2 separate regions of the Homo sapiens genome follow, and region 2 is linked to region 1. Evidence: fine-mapped expression QTL. A gene starts in region 1. The other region holds a variant in brackets. All regions are shown on one strand. Distances are between the middles of the regions.

Region 1 (11,425 bases):
GGCGGATGGATTGCCTGAGGTCAGGAGTTCGAGACTAGCCTGACCAATATGGTGAAACCCCGTCTCTACTAAAAACACAAAAATTAGCCGGGCATGGTGGCATGTGCTTGTAGTCCCAGCTACTTGGGAGGCTGAGGCAGGAGAATTGCTTGAACCCAGGATGCGGAGGTTGCAGTGAGCCGAGATTGTGCCACTGCACTCCAGCCTGGGTGACACAGCGAGACTCCGTCTTAAAAAAAAAAAAAGAAAAGAAAAGAAAAGAAAAACAAAGAAAAAAAAAGAAAAAATCTGAGGGCATTAGCGTCACCGACACCAGGGGAGTCCAGACACTGTGCCAAGAATCCTGAAACTAGACACACCTTTTCTTTCCCTTTGTTTCTTTTCTTTTTTTTTTTTTTTGAGACAGGGTACCACTGTGTCACCCAGGCTGGAATGCAGTGGCACCATCTTGGCTCACTGCAACCTCCACCTCCCAGGCTCAAGCGATTCTCCTGCCTCAGCCTCCTGAGTAGCTGGGACTACTGGTGCGTGCCACCATGCCTGGCTTTTTTTTTTTTTTTTGTAGATATGGGGTTTCCCCATGTTGCCCAGGCTAGTCTTCAACTCCTGAGCTCAGGTGATTCACCTGCCTTGGCTTCCTGAAGTGCTGGGATTACAGGTGTGAGCCACTGCGCCCAGCTTTACCCTCCTTTCTGTTGGTCCCACCTCAAGGTCTTTACCTCTGCTGTCAACTTTGAAAGGTTGACTTCCGGCGGGGCGTGGTGGCTCACGCCTGTAATCCCAGCACTTTGGGAGGCCAAGACGGGCGGATCATGAGGTCAGGAGATCGAGACCATCCTGGCTAACACAGTGAAACCCATCTCTACTAAAAATACAAAAAATTAGCCAGGCGTGGTGGTGGGCGCCTGTAGTCCCAGCTACTTGGGAGGCTGAGGCAGGAGAATGGTGTGAACCCAGGAGGCGGAGCTTGCAGTGAGCTGAGATAGTGCCACTGCACTCCAGCCTGGGCGACAGAGCAAGACTCTGTCTCAAAAAAAAAAAAAAAAAAAAAAAAAGGTTGACTTCCCTCTTCCTTCAGGTCTTAACTCCACTCTCCCCTGCTCAGAGATGGTTTCCTCAACCACTTGAGCTTCAAAGGCCAAGTCACTTTTATCTTCTTTACATTACTCATCACTCTCTGAAATTATCTTTTATTTGTTTGTCTTTAGGTTTTGGTTTTGGTCTTTGATCTCTCTCCATCCCACTATGATCTAAGCTCCGTGAGGACAGTGACTGCCTGGTTCACTCACTGCCATATGTATATATCCAGTGTCTAGAATAGCGGCCCTGGTCCCCAAGAACATTTGCTATATGAACCAACAACCAAGCACAGCCCACAAGCCAGATGAACCTGGAGCTCAGAGGTCCTGGGGAGAGCTAGCTTGTCAGGGGCAGTGCTGGGACTCAAATCTGGGGCTCCTGCCCCCTCCTGACCATCATCACTCTGCTAGCTGCCCCAGAAGCAAAGGAACCACCCACCTCATTTGCTGCTGCAGAAGCGGCCATTTGATTTTGTTGAATTGTTTTAAAATACCACAATGTAGCTGCTTTGTAAATAAATATGTATATGTGAGGGGGTGCGTGTGTGTTGGCATAAAAGATTTAGAAAAGAATTGAAGATAGATGAATATTTATGGATGTAAGGGAGGTATGGTTAAGTGGGAAAAGGCCGATTGCAGAGAAATGGGCTTATTTTGTTTCTATTTTGGGGGAAAAAAATCAACAAACCAACCAATCCATCACTTATGTTGTCCTCTGTGTGTCGTGTCTAAGTCTGCAGAAGTGAGAGAAAGCTATGGAAGGATGCACTCCAGCCACAGACCGGTTCTCTCAAGACAGTGGTTGTGAGAGTGGTGGCAGGGCAGGAGCACAATGGGGTTTGCCCTTATCAGAGGCGGACTGTTTGCAGTGTATTCCTCTTGTAACTTGGACAAGATCATGAATAAAAGAAGAGAGAAGATGCTAGTTTGCATATCTTGCCATAAGCTTTTTTTCCCAGACAGCTCAAACTATCCATGGGTGGGTGGGGGTGTCTTTCTGGCATCTCGTTCTGTCTCAACCCCACCCCATCCCCTCTCGTCCCCAGTTCTCAAAAGGGGAACCTAAGACCAGAGATGGGAAAAGACTTGAGCAGGGTCACAAGCCACCTCCTGGCTCTGCCACAGCTTCCTGCCCCAGTCTAGCCCCGTAATGATTTATAGGGACTTTAAGAATGAATGTGGGGGCCAGACAGTGGCTCATGCCTGTAATCCCAGCACTTTGGGAGGCTGAGGTGGGCAGATCACCTGAGGTCAGGAGTTCGAAACCAGCCTGGCCAACATGGTGAAACCCTGTATCTACTAAAAGTACAAAAATTAGCCCAGCGTGGTGGCACACACCTGTAGTCCCAGCTACTTGCGAGGCTGAGGCAGGAGAATCACTTGAACCCGGGAGGCAGAGGTTGCAGTGAGCTGAGATTATGCCACTACACTCCAGCCTGGCAGCAAGAGTAAAACTCTGCCTCAAAAAAAAAAAAAATAGTGAATGTGAAAAATGGGAAGTTGCAGTGAGAGAGAGAAGGGGAGGGAGAGAAGAAACAGGAAAGTGGGGGAAAGGTCACAAAGGGTACAGGATCAGGGAAAGAAGAGGAGGAAGAAGAAGACAAGAGATAAGGACAAGGAGAGAAAGAAAGAAGAGGTGGCTGGTGCAGTGGCTCACACCTGTAATCTCAGCACTTTGAGAGGCCCAGGTGGGAGGATCACTTGAGGCCAGGAATTTGAGACTAGTCTGGGCAATATAGTGAGACCCCCATCTCTACAAAGAAAAAAAATTAAAAATTAGCCAGGTGTGGTGGCGTGCATCTGTGGTCCCAGCTACTCCAGAGGCTGAGGTGGCAGGATCGCTTGAGGCAGGGAAATTGAGGCTGCAGTGAGCTGTGTATGCTTGCACCACTCCACTCCAGCCTAGGTGAGAAAGTCAGACCCTGTCTCAAAAAAACAAGAAAAAGAAAGAAAAAAAGAGAAGAAAGAAGAAAGAAAGAAAGAAAGAAAGAAAGAAAGAAAGAAAGAAAGAAAGAAAAAGAGAGAGAGAGAGAAAAAGAGAAAGAAGGAAAGAAAGAAAGAAGGAAAGAGAAAGAAGGAAAGAGAAAGAAAAAAGAGAAAGGTAGGTCAGAACAAGAAGGAAATGAATGAGAGAAGGAAATGAGAGAAGTTAATGAAGATTAAGGCATAAGTGAGGAAGCAAGCAAGTATCAAGAGACTGAGTCATGCAATGGGCAACAGTCTGAAAAGCAGAGACAGACAGATGTGGAACTGTGCTGTCAGCAGCAGGGATGGAGAGACAATGACCCAGAGACAGAGGCAGGTGGAAAGTCAGCAGTGGATAACAGAGATGGGAAGGGATGGGAACCTCCAGAAATGGCAGGGACACAAAGACCTAAAGAGATGCATGACAGAGACAGAGACAGGTGGTCAGAAAGTCAGAGGGCGATTCAGACTGGTCAGGTGGGAGACGGGGGAGGACTAGCAAGGGACTGAGGCTGTGGCCCACCAGGTCCCTGCGTCCTGCGTGGATGGGGCTGTGTTTGTGTGACTGGTGTCTGCAGGTGCTGCTTCGGGTGGGACGCTGTGACGGGGTTTCTGTGCCAGACTTGGTCTATGCGGGCGGCCTCTCTGAGACTCTTGGGGACTCTGTCGGGGTTCTTGGTTGTCCCTGGAACTCTTTGTTCAGGGGAGGGCCTGGGGGAATCCTCCAGAAAGTCTGAATTAACCCAGCTCCCTGCCCTCCTGAGCGCCCACCCTCCAGCCTCCTGCCTCCTTGCACTCTCCTCCCTTTTCTTAGGGGGAAATCTAGGAATCTCCTTGACCACCCCCTGCCTGCCAGGCCCTACTGGGGAGACTCAAGGTCCAGCTATCTAACCTCAGTGCAGAAACCTGCCCCTGGCCCTCTCCCCAACTGGGAGGGCCGGGCCGGGCCGGGGTTAACCCTTCAACCTGCTTTAACCCTTCCCTTCCGTCTTTCCTTCATCCTCCCATGCCCATCGCTCTTCCACTGTCCAGCCCCACGAACCTAGACATTCAATCAGAGCTTGGGAATCCAAGACCCCAGCCCAGCACCCCAACTTCCTGTATCTCCAGCTCCCTTCTCCCCCACATAACTGCAACCTCCCCAAGTACCAACACTTTCTCTCAACCTAGATGACCCTGCTGGGGGATTTCAGACCCTTCCCCTCTTTTCCTGACCCTGGGACTAGGTCTGTGGACACCCTTGTCCCCTCCTCTTACTGACCCTGGGAAGGCATCCATCCCCTGACCTCTGTCCCGAGATGACTACCCCAGCCCCCGGCAAGGACCTCTTCAGGGACCCTCTCCACGTACAGATGAAGACCCCTAACAGGGCATTATCCCCTGCCCCCCACCCCAACTCAGTTCGGAGATCCGACCCGGGGACCCCGAGTCCAGTGTCTGCCCCCTCCTCAACAGGAGCCGCAGACTCCTGCCCCCAGGCAGGGCTAGGTGTCTGCGACCCTCTTGCCTGCTCGGGGAAGCAGACCTCCGCCCCTAGACCCGGCTCCGGCCCGAGGACGCCGACCCCTGCCCCGGGGCGCGGACCCCCACGTCCGAGGTCCCCCTGCCCAGCCAGGGAATGCAGACCCCACCCCCGGGCCCAGACCCCGGCGTCCCGGGGCCTCCCCGCGCCGGCCCAGGGATGCAGCCCTCGACCCCCACCCCTGATCCCCCGATTACCCACCCAAGACCCTGGCGTCCCGGCCGAGCCCCCCGCCCCCGGCGCTGCGGTACCTCGGCTGATGACGGCCAAGCCGGCCAGGGCGGCGGCGGCGAGAAGCCGGAGCCGGGCCCCGGGCGCAGGGGGGGGCATCGCGGCAGAGGCGGCGCGGAGGGGGAGGGGAAAGGGGGGGCCGGTCCGGGGCGCGCGAGGCCTGGGGGGAGAGGGGGGAGGGGGAGGGGGACCCCGCCTGCGCTGCACCGGCCCGGGGGGCGGCGGGGGCGGGGGGAGGGGGCTGGGGGGGCGCGACGAGGCGGCTGGAGCTGCTGCAGACCCGGGGAGGGGGGCGGCGCTGACGGGCAGGGAGACCGGCCAATCAGGAGAGGTGGGGGGCCGGGGAGGCGGGGTCAAGGGGGGGTTGCTTGTTGGAGGGAGAGGCCTTTGTTACTGCGGCCCGGCCCCTACCCCTCCCGCCCCAGGCGTCCCCACGTCTTTCCACCACATCCGCAGAACACGGAGTCTGGGATACTTCCTAAAACCCAGCTCCCTCCTCCTTCAAGTCCCAATCTCATCCTCCCATGGACCTAGGAGACTAGCCCCAGTCCCTCCTCTCTCAGACCCAGGAGCCCAGGTCCCCAGCCCCTCCTCCCTCAGACCCTGGAGTCCAGGCCCCCAGCCCCTCCTCCCTCAGACCCAGGAGTCCAGGCCCCCAGCCCCTCCTCCCTCAGACCCAGGAGTCCAGGCCCCCAGCCCCTCCTCCCTCAGCCCAGGAGTCCAGGCCCCCAGCCCCTCCTCCCTCAGACCCAGGAGTCCAGGCCCAGCCCCTCCTCTCTCAGACCCTGGAGCCCAGGCCCCCAGCCCCTCCTCCCTCAGACCCAGGAGTCCAGGCCCCCAGCCCCTCCTCCCTCAGACCCTGGAGCCCAGGCCCCCAGCCCCTCCTCCCTCAGACCCAGGAGTCCAGGCCCCCAGCCCCTCCTCCCTCAGACCCAGGAGTCCAGGCCCCCAGCCCCTCCTCCCTCAGACCCTGGAGCCCAGGCCCCCAGCCCCTCCTCCCTCAGACCCAGGAGTCCAGGCCCCCAGCCCCTCCTCCCTCAGACCCAGGAGTCCAGGCCCCCAGCCCCTCCTCCCTCAGACCCTGGAGCCCAGGCCCCCAGCCCCTCGTCCCTCAGACCCAGGAGTCCAGGCCCCCAGCCCCTCCTCCCTCAGACCCAGGAGTCCAGGCCCCCAGCTCCTCCTCCCTCAGACCCTGGAGTCCAGGCCCCCAGCCCCTCCTCCCTCAGAGCCAGGAGTCCAGGTCCCCAGCCCCTCCTCCCTCAGGCCCAGGAGTCCAGGTCCCCAGTTCCTCCTCCCTCAGACCTAGGAGTCCAGGCCCCCAGCCCCTCCTCCCTCAGACCCAGGAGTCCAGGTCCCCAGTCCCTCCTCCCTCAGACCCTGGAGTCCAGGCCCCCAGCCCCTCCTCCCTCAGACCCTGGAGTCCAGGCCCCCAGCCCCTCCTCCCTCAGACCCAGGAGTCCAGGCCCCCAGCCCCTCCTCCCTCAGACCCAGGAGTCCAGGCCCCCAGCCCCCTCCTCCCTCAGACCCAGGAGGCCAGGCCCCCAGGCCCCTCTTCCTGTGGGCCACAGTTCAGCTTTTCCATCTATTTTCATGGATAACGAAAACACTGACTTTTGGAGTGAAATTTGCTTTTTTCCTCCACCCCAACCCTCATCCCCAGTATAATAAGGCAATGGGAAGGGATTGGGGGACTTATCTTGGGGGAGCAGGTGGGGAGGAAACCATAATCCAGGGTTTAGGTGCAAAACATCCTGGCTCCCTGTTCTTTCACTGACTTGGCTGTGTGACCTTGGACAAGCCATTTCTCTTCCCAGAACCTCAGCGTCTTCCCCTGCAAGGTGGAAAATTCCCTATTGCCCAAGGTTATTGAGAAGAATGAGAGATCTTGGAGCAGCTCCTGGCTCCAGCCAGCACCTCAAAAACCTGTAGTGAGTTTCTCCCTCCCCTTTCCACTTTGCATCTGTTTACTAGGTGTATTCCACCCTCCTGTTCCCGTCCCCTTGGCATACGCAGGAGCAAAATAATCTCTGAGTCTACGTTATTTCTGTAGCAGTTCAAGGCAGGAGCTTTTGAAGTTACCCAGTAGGGGCTGTTCTGCCTCAGAAACATATCCATCCTCAATTCCTTCCCCCTCCACTCACATCCAATTTGTCTGCAAGAACCGCTGGCTCTGTCTCCAAAACAAATCTCTGCTTTGTCCTTTTCTTACTCTCCCATCCTGGTCTGAGCTTTCACCACCTCTCCCTGTAGGACTCTGGCTGTAGCAGCCTATGCTCTACTCTCTTGGCCTCTACCTTTGCCTCCACCTTCAGAACAACCACCACTAAACACCTGGACCAGCTAGGGCCACTCCCTGCCTCAATCACTCAGCTCGCTGTGACCTTCTTTCCATTCCTTAAACAAACCGAACAATTCCAGCCCCAGGGTCTTTGTACTTGCCGTTCTTTCGCTGGAATGCTCTTCCTACCACACTGGCAGATGACTCTTTCTTATTTAAGGCTCATCTTCTCCCCTTTAAGAAGCCTTCATTGATCATAGTTTCCAAAGTAGCTGCTACTCCCAGCACAATAACTCTACGTCATACCTCTTCATAGCACTAACAATGTTCTTTTGCCTTTTCCTTTTCTTTTCTTTCTTTCTTTCTTTCTTTCTTTTTTTTTTGACAGAGTTTTGCTCTTCTTGCCCAGGCTAGAGTGCAATGGTATGATCTTGGCTCACCACAACCTCTAACTCCTGGGTTCAAGTGATTCTCCTGCCTCAGCCTCCTGAGCAGCTGGGATCACAGGCATGCACCATCACAGTCGGCTCGTTTTGTATTTTTAATAGAGATGGGGTTTCTCCATGCTAGTCAGGCTGGTCTTCAACTCCTGATCTCAGGCGATCTGCCCGCCTCGGCCTCTTAAAGTGCTGGGATTACAGGTGTGAGCCACTGCGCCCGGCCGATTTCCTTCTTTCACTGTTATTTTTAGTTGCTCTCCCCCTACTCCCACTTCCAGAATGTAAGCTTCACGGAGTTTTTTGTTTTTGTTTTGGTCTGCTTTTGTTCAAGGCTGGATTTCCAGAGCCCAACCTAGTGACTGACATGTAGTACGTACTCAAATAAATACGTACTGCATGAGTGAGTCGGATGGCTTAGCTCCGTTTGGAGAGATGGAGGGAAGTAAGATACAGAGGGAGGAAGAGACCTGCCTGCGTTCACAAAACTGGGTGATGCAAAAGTTAATGGTGTTCTGCAGGTGGCTTGCACTGGCTCAAAAGAGCTGATTATTAAATTTTCAGAAATTGTGCAAGCCAGGTGTTAAACCATTATTAGCTTGAAACTGGCCATGTTGGGAGGATTTACACCACAGCAATGGTGAACACTGAATCAGCTTGCCAGCCCACCACTCTACAAAATCCATTGTGATCCTGGTGAAAGGCCATTTATTGATCCTCTTTGAATTCCGGACCGTTCAGACTTAGGATGAGAACAGGAGCTCCCTCTTCCTGAAATGGCCCATCCCATGCCTGATAAAATATGAGTGCTTACTCGGTGTAGGGATCTTTCTAAGCACTTTGTACATATTATCTCCTTGAAGCATCATGACACCCTTCTGAGGCAGCACTTATCTTTATCCCTATTTCACAGGTGAGGACAAAGAGACATGGAGAATTTTTTACATCCCAAGAGCTATAAATGTGTGATACTGTGAAATATATATTTGGTCTTCATAACACCCCCGCTACGTCCACTGGCAAGCCCCAGGTAGCTTCAGTATGGGGGTTGGTCACAGGAAAGAACAAGGCATGATTAAAAGGTTGGGACTTTCAGCTCATCTCCCAGCCTCTGTGGAAGGGAGAGGGAGTGAAAGTTAAGTGGAGCACCAATGGGCAATGATTTAATCAATCATGCGTATGTAATGAATGTTCCATTAAAAAACCGCAAAAGACTGGGTTTAGGGGGCTTCCGGACAGTTGAACACACGGAGGTTCCTGGAAGGTGGCATGCCTGGAGAGGGCATGGCAACTCCATTCTCCTTCCCCTGCACCTCACCCTGTGCGTCTCTTCACCTGTATCCTTTGTAATATCCTTTATAATAAACTGGTAAGCATAAGTGTTTTTCTAAGTTCTTTGAGCTGCTCTAAAAAATTAATTGAAGAGAAAGGTGTTATGGAACCCCAATTTATAGCTGGTCAGTCAGAAGCACAGGTAAAGAACCTGGAGCCTACAATTGGCATTGGAAGTGGGGGACAGTCTTGTGGGACCAAGCCCTCAACTTGTGGGATCTGCTGTGAAGTCCAGGTAGATGTATGAGGATTGAATTGGAGTACACCCAATTCGTGTCCACTGCAGAACTGATTAATTGGTTGCTGGTGGGGAGAAATCCCTACACAATTCTTGGTGACACCAATCAAAAGAGAAGTGTTGATTGTTAAGTGAGAGAATAGAAAAAGCACTTTGGTTGTCTTCCCTATAGCCTCAGATTTGGTGTCAGAAGTGGGATGAGTAAAACAGAAATTGATGGAGTTAGAACAAAAGTCTTAATATAATACTATTTAAGGTTGGGTGGGCCAAAGGGAGTACTTGTTGGTTCCCTAACATTAAAGGGTTCCAAAAAAGTTTGCTGTATTTACCTTAGTTTGGAGAAATTTTAAAAGTCAGAAAGCAAAGATTAAAATAAGACATCTGATCTGAAATTTTCTGGGGCAATAGTCTGGCAGTTTAATCAAGATAAAGATTAACCAACAAGCAAGAGTTCTTTTGCTCAACGCCCTGATGGGGACCTAAAGCCTTATGTACACAAGTGGACAAAATGATCAGGGATGCAGAAGAGAAATTCATGGGACTCCTTGATATGGGAGGTCCACTGACTATGGTACCAACATCCATTGGTGAAGTCCTGACTTGGGATTAGATTGAGAGAATGTAAAAATTTAAGGGTTGTAGTATTGTGAAACCAAAAACCATTGATAAAGTTCTAATAGAGGCTACAGTTAGGAAAGTGAGGGTTGGTGGAATTAAGATAAACCTTTATAGGAGAGTTGGTATATTTGAACACATTTTCTCTGAAGTGATTTTACCTGATTATATTATGGGGATGGATGTTGTATCAGACTGGGAAATGTTTCCCATACCTAGCATTATGAAACAAAAGCCATGTAAATCTGCCTTTAATCAATATTAATTGGACATGCTAAATAGGAACCAGTCAGATCTCTGGAGCCCACAAAATGTAGAATAGAAGACAGAGTGATGCTATGGACAAATTCTCTGAGACAGAGCCCTGTATGGAACCCAGACTGGGGCCTATGGGAACAGCCTATAAGCACCTTCCAGTGACAACTACTGAGACTCTGGACTACAGAATTTCAATTTGAAGAGCATAATACTACTTTCTATGGGATATTAATTCAAGCTACCCCTATGACTGAGGACATAAAATGATCTTGAAGCCTGAAATACCAATAATCTCTTGGATTATGTTTAAAAACACTCTAATGGAGATTAAAATGCCCAGAAGAGTCCCCTAATAAATTAGAAATGATTTATACAGGATCATGCTACCTAGGGAATGCAAGGAGGAGATACTAATAAAAAAGGAGCCTCTTTCTCCCTCGGACTGACTCTGGAAGCGTATGGGGAGCAGCTGGATCCTACTGCCACTTGGACAGTGCCCTATAAACAGCTCTCAACTAGCCAACAAAGAGCTGCTTGGTGTGCAGATGACAGTGCCAAGATGAAAAGACCACGTTCTATTTAGAAGGATGCCATTCTGATCAAAGAAGATAAAAACAAATCCGTCCAGTGAGCTGAATTGCATGCTGAAGAATTGAACAGTGGTAAAAGCCCTTCCGTGTGGGTTTTTACTGACTCACAGGCAGTGGCCAATGGCTTGGCCATATAGTCAAGCAGGTGGATAATGGAAACCTAGCCTATTAAAGGGATGTCCATATGGGACACACACAGCCCTTTGGAAATTTGAGGGGTCCTTAAGGTAGGACATGTCAATGCCCACCAGAAGAGCTCTCTTCCAGGTCTGGAAGGTGATTGAAATCGACAAGCAGATATCCCTGTGTGCTCACTGGGTGGCCACCTGGGTGCATGAAATGAGAGGACATGAGGGCACTGCAGCAGTGCAGAGATGGGCTGAATCTAAATATGTTTCTATTGCACCCTCTCAGGCACATAATGCCAATAAGAACTGTTCTGTTTGCCAGCAGGAGAGACAGAAGCTGCAGATGGCTATGGGCCAGATTCCCTGGTGGGAAGGTCCCAAGCACAGCTGGCAAGTGAGGCTGATGCTGGTAGCCCTGGGGGGCTACAAATGGGTCTTGACAGGAATAGACGCTGACTCTGGGCTGGCCTTTGCTTACCCAGTGGAAGATGCAAATGCTCAGAGTGCTGTAAAAGAATCAGAACAGAATATATTACACACATTTGCACAGGCTGCCGTCATTTCTTCCGACCAAGGAACACACTGTCTAGCCCATAATGTCCAGCAATGGGCAGAGAGCTGTCCTTTGGGTAATAATTTGATCAAGAAGTGGAATGAGCAATTAAAACTTTGGTTGTCAAAAACAGGGGAGATAAAAGCATGAAGGATGTAGCCATAATTTTTTTTAATGTACCCATAAAAATAAAAATTTA
Region 2 (11,425 bases), 41 kb after region 1:
AAAATTAGCCAGGTGTGATGGCACATGCCTGTAGTCCCAGTTACTCGGGAGGCTGAGGTGGGAGAATTGCTTGAACTGGGGAGGCAGAGGTTGCAGTGAGCCAAGATCGCGCCACTGCGCTCCAGCCTGGGTGACAGAGCAAGACTCCATCCCCACCATAAAAAAAAAGTAAAGCTTCCATGCTTGCAGGTACCAGATGAATGGGGCCTGTTTGTGAAGACATAGGAGACTCCTTGGGGACTCCTAGAAAACTTTTGGAGGAAGATGACAAGGAGACTCTGCAGGGGGCTCTGCAGCTGAGGAAGGACAGTGGAATTTCCATTACTCCATTGTTCCAGTGATATTTCCACCATTGCCCCTTCACATTTCCACATCTGCATGGCATCCTTTTAAATTATAAATCAATCATGTCAGTTCCCTGTTCGTTACCATCTGTTGGCTTCACTTTACTGTCAAAATAAACTCCAAAATTTGACAGATTTTGGCAGACTGCTAGAAATACTACCTAACCCTACTTCCCCTCTGTTTCTCTTTCTCTCCTTGGTCAGCTTCTGCCCCTTCACAGTACGCAGGGAAGTAACTCTGTATCTATTCTGACCAGAATGTGAGTTCCTTGAGAAAATTAGTCATGTCCAAATATCTTTTGTGTGTCATGTTGGAATCACCTTTGTGTACCACTTCTGGGTGGCCTTTGTGTGTCATGCCCAAGGTACCTTTATGTGACATAATGGAGTCCACCTTTCAAAGTCAAGTCTGAGTCACTTTTGTGTCTCTAGTACCCAACACACAATCTGGAACACAGCTGGTGCATAATAAAGCTTTATCAAATGAAAGAAGATTTGGAACCAAGAAATTTGGGGTTTTGGCAAGGCGCGGGGACTCACACCTGTAATCCCAGCACTTTGGGAGGCCAAGGCGGGCAGCTCACTTGAGGCCAGGAGTTCGAGACCAGCCTAGCCAACATGGCAAAATCCCTTCTCTACTTAAAAAGCAAAAATTAGCCAGGCGTGGTGGCATGCGCCTGTAGTCCCAACTGCTCAGGAGGCTGAGTTATGAGAATCACTTGAACCCAGGAGGCAGAGGCTGCAGTGAGCAGAGATTGTGCCACTGCATTCCAGCCTGGGAGACAGACAGAGAGAGAGAGAGAGAAAGGGAGAGAAAGAGAGAGAGATAAATAAATAAATAAATAAATCTGGGTTCTAGCTGTGGCTCTGCAGATACCTTAAAATAAATAAATAAATAATACCGAACAATCATGGTGGCCCATGTGCTGTGCACTGGAGATTCACATACTTTATCATTCTCAATCTCACAACAGCACTGTGATGTAGTTCTCAATGCATCACTTCGCAGATAAGGAAACTGAGGCCCAGAACAGCATAGGAACTAGTCAGGTTCACAGGGCCAAGAAATGGACATCCTGAAGTCATAATGTAGGTCCCTGGACTCCGAACCCAGTGTTCTTTCCGGTATGCCAGGCTGCCTTCAGAACTGCTGTGTCATCACGGTTGAAGCCTCTTCTCCTCTCTGAGTCCCATGCTTCATGTATAAAATATGGGAATAAATCAAACTGTCCTGTCCACCTCACAAGGTTTGAGAAAGACAGTGGGAAAAGCATATAGTTTTGCACCATATGAGTTACAAATGTCTTCCCCCTCGACTTGTGTGGTAGGCAAAATTCTAAAGATGTCTCCCATTCCAAGATTCCTGTGCCCTGGTTATTCAATTAAACATTAATCTACGTGCTTCAGTGAAGGGACTTTGCTGACTGAGTGAAGGGACTTTGCTGATAGAGTGAAGGTGACTAATCTGCTGATCTTAAATTGAGGAGATCATCCTGCACTATCTGAGTGAATGTAATGTAATCACGTGAAACTTGCAAAGCAGAAAAGTCAGAGAGATTCAGGAGAAAGAAAGGGCATACATGAGCCAGAAGTGGAGGTCAGAGAGATGTGAAGCATACGAAGGATTTGACTCACCATTGTTTGCTTTGAAGATGAAGGAACGAACCCACGAGCCCATGAGGGCAGCTCCTAGAAGCTGACAATGACCCCAGCAGACAGCTAGCAAGGGAATGCAGACCTCACTACTACAAAGCATGGAACTGATTCTGAATGTGTTTGGAAATGGGTTCATCCAAAGGGACTCGAGAAAGCAACATAGCCCTGCCAACACTGTGATTCAGGCCTTGTGAAAGCTGGAGCAGAAAACCAGGGGAACCACGCCACACCAGAACTTTTGACCTTCTGTGAGATCATACATGAGTGTTACTTTAAAAGCTGCTAAAATTGGGCTGGGCCCAGTGGCTCATGCCTATAATCCCAGCACTTTGGAAGGCCAAGGCAGGTGGATCACATGAGGCCAGGAGTTCCAGGCCAGCCTGGGCAACATGGCAAAACCCTGTCTCTACTAAAAATATTTTTAGAAAATTATCCAGGTGTGGTGGTACTTGGGAGGCTGAGGAATGAGAATAGCTTGAACCCAGGAGACAGAGGTTGCAGCGAGCCGAGATTGCACCACTGCACTCCAGTCTGGGTGACACAGTGAGACTTGGTCTCAAAACAAACAACAAAAAAGCTGCTAAAGTTGTGGTAATTCTTTTTTTTTTTTTTGAGACGGAGTCTCGCTCTGTCGCCCAGGCTGGAGTGCAGTGGCGGGATCTCGGCTCACTGCAAGCTCCGCCTCCCGGGTTCACGCCATTCTCCTGCCTCAGCCTCCCAAGTAGCTGGGACTACAGGCGCCCGCCACTACGCCCGGCTAATTTTTTGTATTTTTAGTAGAGACGGGGTTTCACCGTTTTTAGCCGGGATGGTCTCGATCTCCTGACCTCGTGATCCGCCCGCCTCGGCCTCCCAAAGTGCTGGGATTACAGGCGTGAGCCACCGCGCCCGGCCAAGTTGTGGTAATTCTTATGAAAGCAACAGGAAACCCATACAACTTGGATGTGAAGCCAGTTCAAAGGAAGGGTTCTAGATTCTTCTGTGAGTGGACGGCCAGCAGTCCAAAGGCTTGGTCTTTGCCTCCCATTTTCTAGGTTTTTCTGGGCCAGGCCCTTCCCTCACTAGGGAACTGCTTCCTCATTTAAGATAGTCTAGAGTTTGCAAATTAGTGGCTTTGTGAGGTAGTTAAAATGCAGGGGGTTTTATTTAGCCTGCATTAAGAAAACTGCATACAGACTTTCTTTCATTAGTTGCAATGTTTAAAAATCAGGATCCTCACATAAAAGTCTGAACTCCCAGCTACTTTTTAATAAATTAGATCTGACAACACATGGCAGATATTAACTTTCCCCTTTAATATTGGACAATTGTTCTCCAGTCCATTGCTGCCCCTGCTCTCCCTGCTGCACTCACCTGGGAGGGGCATATAACACAGTGGTTAAGACCGTGTGCTGAGTCAGCCTGCCTGAGTTTAAGTCTGGCGCCACCATTTGCCAGCTGTGTGACTGTGGGCAAATTACTTCCCCTCTCTGGGTTTCCCGTTTCCTCACTTATAACATGTAGATTTTAACAGGATTCATCTGACAGAATTGTTGGGAGCATTAAATGATTAAATGAATGAATGCATGTAAAACCCTCAGAACAGAGGCCAGCACAAAATAAGTGCTAGGCAACTGTTTATCATTCACATCACCTGCCTGGTTCCCTCAGCATTTAATTTGTGACCGCTCTTGACTCATCTCTTTTCTCAGTGATGTTTTGATTCAAGAACCAGCCCTCTGCTTTTCCATTCTGATCGCTGCCTCTCTTAAAAAAACGACTCCCTCCTTACATCAAGATGCTACTCAGGCTTCCAGATAACAAATCCTATCTCTGCATCATAACCCACTTTTGCTTTTTTTTCACTATCAAAATCCTTCCTCCTCCTCCTTTAATTTACAACCTCGAATCAAAGGTTGGGAAGAGCTCTGGGCTGGTTCCAACTGGGGCTTTGCCAGTAACTCGTTGGATAGCTCTGGGCAAGTTCTGTCCCCTTTCTGCTTCCCCCTCTTTTTCCTCCTCGGTAGAATGGGAGGGTTACTGCAGACTATGTAAGGGTCCTTCAGATTCAAAAACTCTGATCTCTCACATCTGTAATCCCAGCACTTTGGGAGGCTGAGGTGGGAGGATCGCTTGAGCCCAGAAGTTTGAGACCAGCCTGGGCAACACAGCGACACCCTGTCTCTACAAAACAATTTAAAAAATTAGCCCGGCATTGTGGGTGCAGCTACTCTGGAAGCTGAGGTGGGAGGACTGCTTGAGCCTGGGAGGTCGAGGCTGCAGTGAGCTGAGATTGTGCCACTGAACTCCAGCCTGGGTGACAGAGCAAGACACTGTCTCAAATTAAATAGATGAATAAAATAATGAAATAAAAATAAAATTCTGATCTCTTTCCAGTCTCACTTCCTTCTCCAGGCCCTGGTGTGTGCGTGAGTTTTCTTCACAGGTGATCTCTTTTCCCTCCCCCTAAATTATCACTTCTTTTTCCATATTTACCTCCCAGTCTCAGGGTCCAAGGAGCTCCAGCCTGGTCCTTCCTCAGCACTATTTCCTTAAAAACCGAATGTCCTCCTGAATTTTTGCATCAAGCGGGTTTGTTTGACTTCCTATTACTGTTTTCAATGACTCCGGATGCGCCCGATGAACTGACTGACACGTGGAATAACCGTGTACACAAACACGGAGTGCCTCACGGGGAAGTGACTAAGGCAGAGGAAGGCTAACGGATTCGCTGAACTGGGAGTCCCCTGAGGCCTCGCCAACCTCCTTGCACGGGGATACCAATCCCTTGAAGCCCCGCCCCGCAAGCTCGCGCGGGTTTGTCCAGAGCCAATCAGGGCCTGACCCTTCTCGCGGGAGCTGCTGGGATGCGCAGCCGCATAAGAGAGCGCGCGGGTCTCCAGAGCCTGAGCTAGTCAGAAGCAACAGTTGCTACTGCGTCCCCCGGACATTGGGAGAATCGTTTTCCTTGGGCAGCTGGTTCCAGACCCCCACCAGTCCTCTAGACTCCAGGCCAATCAGTTGCTAAGGGACGTTCCTCTCTCAACCTGGTATGTGCGGGAAGTCAAGGCATTAACTAAGGCACAAAATGACTAGTGCTGGACCCCAGGGCTGGTCAGAAGGCACCCTGTGTACTCATTGTTTCCTGTCCTGCACGCGAGGCCCCTATCACCGAGAAAACAAGACACACGATGAAGCCCAGCCTCTCTATTCCCATTCCCAAACCCATCTCTGACCTATCTCCAACCCGATCCCTATCCTCTCTCCTATTCCTTTTCTACATTTTTTTCTCTTCTTTCCCAACACTGGCACTCTCCCTCTCCCCAGCCTTGTCTGCCTCTCCCTCCCAAACAGAGGATGTATCTTTAGTAGAAGCAAACACCAAACCTGTTACATAGAGGCTTCTATCCTCAACTCAAAACCTCTGCTGCCCAGGATTCTCACACAGCTCCACTGGATGTGATTCTCAAACAATCTGCACTTTCCAGAATTACAAAGCATAAGAGGAAATAACCCTCCATAAGTGAGGACAAAACCTAAACTTCCCACTAGAGCCCTGGAAGGCCTGCAAGTTCTGGCCCTTCAGGAGCTCATCCCTCAGTCAATTCCAGTCACAGCGGCCTGCTCTGGGCTCCTGAACTCACCAAACTGTTCTCATGTCAGAGCTTAGGATCTACTGCTCCCTCTGTCTAGCCAGCTCCTAATAATCCTATAGGTCTCAAGGCAAGTGTCACTTTCTCTGAGAGGCCTTCTCTGACTCTGTAATCCAACCTAGCTTCCTTTCCTGTGCTTTCTCATAGTATTCTGTCCTGTTTTCTTTCTAGCACTTATCAACATTTTAAGCTATAAATTCGTCTGCATTTCTTCATCGTCTGTCTATGTAGACCATGACTCCACGGAGGCAGGGTGAGTGTCTTACTTCTTCCCCTCATTATCTGGCACATGGTGGCACATCTGATATTTCTGTGAAATGTGAACTGCCTGTGAGAGGTGCTTATACATGTGGGGGCTAACGTAAACGTCCACCCTGAGTATAAGATGACCATCTAGCTGGTGCTACAGGATCACTGTATTTACCCACAAATATTGCCCCAGGGAAGAGATGACCCTCTTTCCACCTACTGAAAACTACTAGCATCTGGCCAGGCACGGTGGCTCACTCCTGTAATCCCAGTACTTTGGGCGGCCGGGGTAGGTGGATCACCTGAGGTCAGGAGTTTGAGACCAGCCTGGCCAACATGGTGAAACCCTGTCTCTACTAAAACTATAAAAAATTAGCTGGGTGTGATGGTGTGTGCCTGTAATCCCAGCTACTCGGGAGGCTGAGGCAGGAGAATCACTTGAACCCGGGAGGCAGAGGTTGCAGTGAGCCGAGATTGCACCATTGTACTCCAGCTTGGGCAACAAGAGCAAAACTCCATCTCAAAAAAAAAAAAAATCTACTAGCATCTGGCTAGAAAGGAGGTTGTCATCCATTCTGAGAGGAACAATACATAGTTGTGGTTCATTCTAATGCCAGAATCCCTTTCCCATTCCTTGCATGCCTGCCTTTCAATCTGGCCAAGAACTATTGCGATAACCTCCTAACTAGCATCTTTACCTCCAGCCTTACCCATTCTAAATATATCATATGTGGGGTCAGGGTACGGAAATGATTTTTCTGTCTATATCTGGTCACTCTACTTGCTTGCTTCAAACCTTAAAACAGCTTATAATTAATTAAATCATTTGACAAACATTCTTGAGATCTTATTGTATTTTAGGCATCATTCTGGGTGCTGGTGATAAAAGTAGAAAACAAGGCAGACAAAGTCCCTGTTCTCTTGGAACTTACATTCTAAGGGAGTCAGGATAAGGTCCTACAAGATAAAGCTCCAAAGCTCCAATGAATCTTGGCATTCAGGGCCCATCGTCATGTTTTTTCTCACCTGCATCTCTGAACAGTACTTTTCACCCATTCTCCACCCAGATATGGGTCATGTGATGTTCAAAGGATGGGGAATGAAAGATCTTGTCCAAAGATAGACAGCCACCAAGCACTGAAGTTGGGATTCTATCCAGATATGAAGGCTTGAAAGCCTGGCGCTCTTGTAGGTGTATCTCAGGCACTGACACACAGTAGGCGCTCAAAAGTAACTTGCTGATGGACTTGATTCATATTGTCACATGTATTTTTCCTTCTTTTGACACCTTCCCAGGGTGGCACAGATTTCTTCTCATTTAGCCAAACAACAAATTACAAAGTGTGTCTTCAGAGGTTCTAAGACTAGGTCTAAGAGTAACCACCTATTCAATGGAGAATGAGTGTTAAGGGATGTGTAGGAATTGAGAGGGTTTTGTGAGCTGAGGAGAGTCCAGGGGGCTCCAGGTTTATTACAGCCTCCAGGGTTTCTGTGAGCGCTATAAATTTTGCAGATCTTTGTAATTCCAGGGATAATGGCGACTCCAGGTATGAGGCATGTTCCACAGGCTTAGCTGGCTCGTTTATCTTGCTTTTCCTGAAAGCGAGGTGCAAAATAGAACAAAGAAAAAAGAATGTTGGAACAGGTCTAGAGGTGAGGTATCCAAATCTTAAAAAGACACCCCCTTGTGCACAGAATTAAGGCAACATGGAGTGAGCACTGGCTTAGCCCTTCCTCACAACCCCATGGTTAAAGCCTGCAACTCGGTCTTCTCCATCTGGTCCTCTCTGTGCATCTTCAGTACCCATAACACTGACTGTTCCTTAGACTCCTCAGGGAATCTTGCCTGACTTCCTCAGGTAGGTTTGGTCCCTCCCTCTTCTGCACCACCGTAACTCCTGGCTCAGCATCCCCTACTGTGAAGGTGCCTTCTCGACCAGTCTAGTTGCTCTCTGAGGACAAGGCCTAGGTTTGGCCCATTTCTGAGACCCCAGCATTGTCGAGCACAAAGATTAGGAGATATTGCAGGAAATATTGGTGGAATTTAACAGATGGCTTATCTACAAAAGGACACCAACTGTTCATGCAGGGTGTTAGGAGGGCAGCAGGATAATTCTGATTCTGGAGAATCATAAACGGTAAATAACAGTGAGGC[A/G]TAGCAACCTCGGACACTGTATCTTCCAAGCCCTGCTGAAGATGTGGGGTACAGGGTGAATGAAGGAGTAACCTGGGCTTGGCCTAATCTCTAACCACTTCAGGCTGACTTGGCCTGTGGCATCTACACCAAGCTGACTGCTGCCGGCCATACACTCAGAGGCCAAATCCTTGGTTTCCACTCTGATGCTACAACTGCTATTAGGATTTTCCCCAACTGCCTTTTCAGTGGGGATTCAATGTAATGGTGTGTGCGTGTAAATTGATTTTAATTGTTCTTTAAATTGTTTCTCTTAACTTTCATCCTTCTCCTCTCTGGGCCTTAGCTTCCTATTTATAAAATGACCTGAAAGCACACTCTAGCATTAGGTATCCTGCAAGACTGAGGATGATAACACCTTCAAAACACTGTGTGCTCCTTTCCCTGTGGGTCTTATTATCAGTATTCCGATAGACTAGATTCCAGACACAATAGGTACATACCAATATCCGGCTCTCAGAAAATGTGGCGACTACGGGTTTTCCTGGTTCCTCAGGCTTCAGAGACATCTCAAGTTCTTGGCTTGCTCTGACTTTAGAGCTCTTTTTTGCTCTGATCGCTGCAGCTTTCTTCGCCTGCTTCTTTCTGATATGTTTCACTCTAAGGAAATAAGCCTTGGATTGGTTCTGGCTCTCCATCTCCCTGAATCCCCAAATGGGCTCTATCTTGACCAGAACTTCTGATTTAGAGCCTCAACAACAGTACCAGCTTGCTGTATGACCTAGGGCAAGCCACACATCCTCTCTGGGAATTAGTTTCACACTCTGAATAAGGGGGATACCCTGCTTATTAGGCTGTGGGGCTCAGATGAGGTCAGCTAAGAAAGGGCCTTGCAACTGGCAGAGAGATTGTTACTGGTCTTCAAGTCCTGTTGATTATACTTTGAAAATAGCTCCTCAGTTTGCCCTGACACCTCACTCCTCATCTTTGTCTCCCCATAGCCAGCCATGCCCAAGTCCCACCTCTCTGGCTGCCCCTCATCACTTGCCCCAGGTCAGGCCTTCTATTTCCTGCTTAGTCCCCTGCACCAGCTTCCTGCCTGGCCTCTGACCTTCTGGCTCTCACTCTCTCTAATCTGTGTCCCACCCCAAGCTCAAGCTTTCCTTCACAGCTTAGCACTCTTCCATGGCTCCGAAATGAGGATTCAGTCCAAGCTGTCTGGACAGGCTCCCCTGCCCGTCTCTCTGGCCTGACTTCCTGCAACTCACCCCTTCCCACTCCATGCTTCTAGCTAATACATGCAGCTAAGTTTTAACACCCTGTGAACCAACACCAAGGATGTCTTTCAACCTCATTTTTAGCCATTACCTGGTACTCTCAATGCACCTGACATTATACAAAGACACTGGAAATGCCTCAAACATGCCTCTGGGCGTCTGCATACAAAGGTTAGATATCCCTTATCTGAAATGCCTGGGGCCAGAAGTGTTTCAGATTTCAATTTTTTTTTTTTTTTTTAGATTTTGGAATATTTGTTTATACATAATGACATATCTTGGGGATAGGAGCCAAGTATAAAAACAAAATTCATTTATGTTTCATATATACCTTATACACATGGCCTGAAGGTAATTTTATATAATATTTAAAATTATTTTGTGCATGAAATAAAGTTTGTGTGCATTGAACTATCACATGAGGTCAGGTGTGGAATTTTCTACTTGTGGCATTATGTCGGTGCCTCGAGAACTTTTGGACTTTGGAGCATTTCGGATTTTGGATTTTTGGATTAGATACTCAACCTGTACTATTAATACTTTCCACCAAGCTAACGAGTACTGAACCCTTGCAGGCCCACCACAGACAGCACCCCGGGGACTCGCTGCTGCCTTTTCCAGGGCTGCCAAGTCCCTTCTTGGTCTTCTCCTTTATAAAATGTGTTCAAAGTGTCTGTTTTATGACACAGTTTTACGGTTCTGTATAGTCCTCATGGCCCTGGATTGTGGTGACCATGTTTGGTACATCTTTCCCTCTTTAGACCCTAAGCTCCTTGAGGGGAGGGGTCCTGTCTTTGCTCTCTCTGTGCCAGGGCTGCAGCCAGGGCCTGCCCGGTAGTAGGCTTGCGGGTGAATATTAACCCTAGTACTCACATGAGAGGGAGGAGGCAGAGGAAGAGCAGCGCAATTACAATTCCCGCATAGATAGCACCCTGGATCAGCCCTTTCACGAAGGCCTGGGCAGCCAAAGAACTCTTTCCTGGAAGCAGAGAGCATGTGAGAAGTTTGGCATCGGAGCCAAAACTCTGCTCCATTCTCTAGCCCCAGTGACTGTCCCCATCCCGCTTATTGTCCTCACCCAGTCACCGAGCCCCCTCCACCCTCACTTGACATCAGTAGGATGCTCAAAGCATGGGTTCCGTTTTGGTTCTTCCCCTCACAGAGAAGTCTCATGCCCATTTCTGGCTCTTCAGTTAGGCTGATGGTGCTGTTAGCCCAGGGGCCAAGCATGGTGGAAGTCACTTGGAGGCTGCCATCCATGCCATCCACACCCACGGGGACTCCTCCCATCCACCACTGCACAGAGGGTGTGGGAATCCCATGGAAGGAACAGCTGCACTGCAGTGTCTTCTCCAAGGAGCAAGAGGAGTTGAGCAGCTTAGCAGGTACTGTGGGGAGGAAGGGTCAGGAGTCAGCAAGGCATCCTGGCTTCCCTCTTCCAGTTTCTCCAGCATGCAGCCTTCTCTTTACTTGCTATTCACAAGGAGCTTCAGAAGGACTTTCTGGAAGCCCACAGGATTCAGGCCTCCCAGACCAGTTCCCCTCTATCTTCTGTCCTCATCTGGCCTGAACCTGATCGCTAGACCTTCTTGAGGGGTGGCAAGTAAATTTCCTGAGGCTCTACATTGTCTGTGATCCCTCACCTACCCTGCAAGGCTAGAAGTCCAAGCCAGACCTCCTACTCTGCTTCTCTTCTTCCCACCTGCAATGTTCCTCTTAGGCTCTATGACCAATTCTCCCTCCATCACTTCCTGTCTGGGTGCTGCTGGGCAAGTCACTCCCCTTATCATTGCTGTTTCCTAGCCTGGAAAATCGGGATATTTGCTGAACCTATCTCATATTATCATCGTTATAAGAATGAATGCCCCAAGATTTGCAGTGCACCCAGCTCAGTGCGTAGTGAAGTATTACCCATTCAATAAACAGAACACCTTTCTTAATTTCCTTCTTCCCGGTCTCAAGTGGTCTTTGGTGGAACATTCACTGGAAGCCAAATGTACTATGGCATCTTCTGTGTAAGAATGCTGGAAATTGCCTCGCTCTATTTAGAACAGGTAGGACATGGTGGCCATTTGATGAATATCATGGATTAGGAGGGAACAGTCACATTCATCAAGGTCTCTAATAATGAGG

Evidence for each region. PIP is the estimated chance that this variant, and not a neighbour inherited with it, causes the effect.
Region 2: its variant is fine-mapped to the expression of IGLON5 in cerebellum (GTEx, PIP 0.97).

What each region holds. Positions count from the first base shown.
Region 1 is chr19:51,305,319-51,316,743 of GRCh38, reverse strand. IGLON5 (IgLON family member 5) reads right to left here and starts at 5,100. Exons shown (of 8, transcript NM_001101372.3): 1 at 4,818-5,100. The coding sequence starts at 4,896.
Region 2 is chr19:51,264,623-51,276,047 of GRCh38, reverse strand. It overlaps SIGLECL1 (SIGLEC family like 1), which reads right to left. Exons shown (of 6, transcript NM_001385465.1): 3 at 10,399-10,680; 4 at 10,166-10,271; 5 at 8,519-8,675; 6 at 6,718-7,477. The coding sequence ends at 7,451. LINC01872 (long intergenic non-protein coding RNA 1872) reads right to left here and starts at 4,782. Exons shown (of 3, transcript NR_136526.1): 1 at 4,476-4,782. It overlaps LOC107985327 (a long non-coding RNA gene), which reads left to right and starts at 4,881. Exons shown (of 4, transcript XR_007067309.1): 1 at 4,881-5,029; 2 at 5,804-5,885. The variant A/G (reference allele first, on the strand shown) is at 8,037.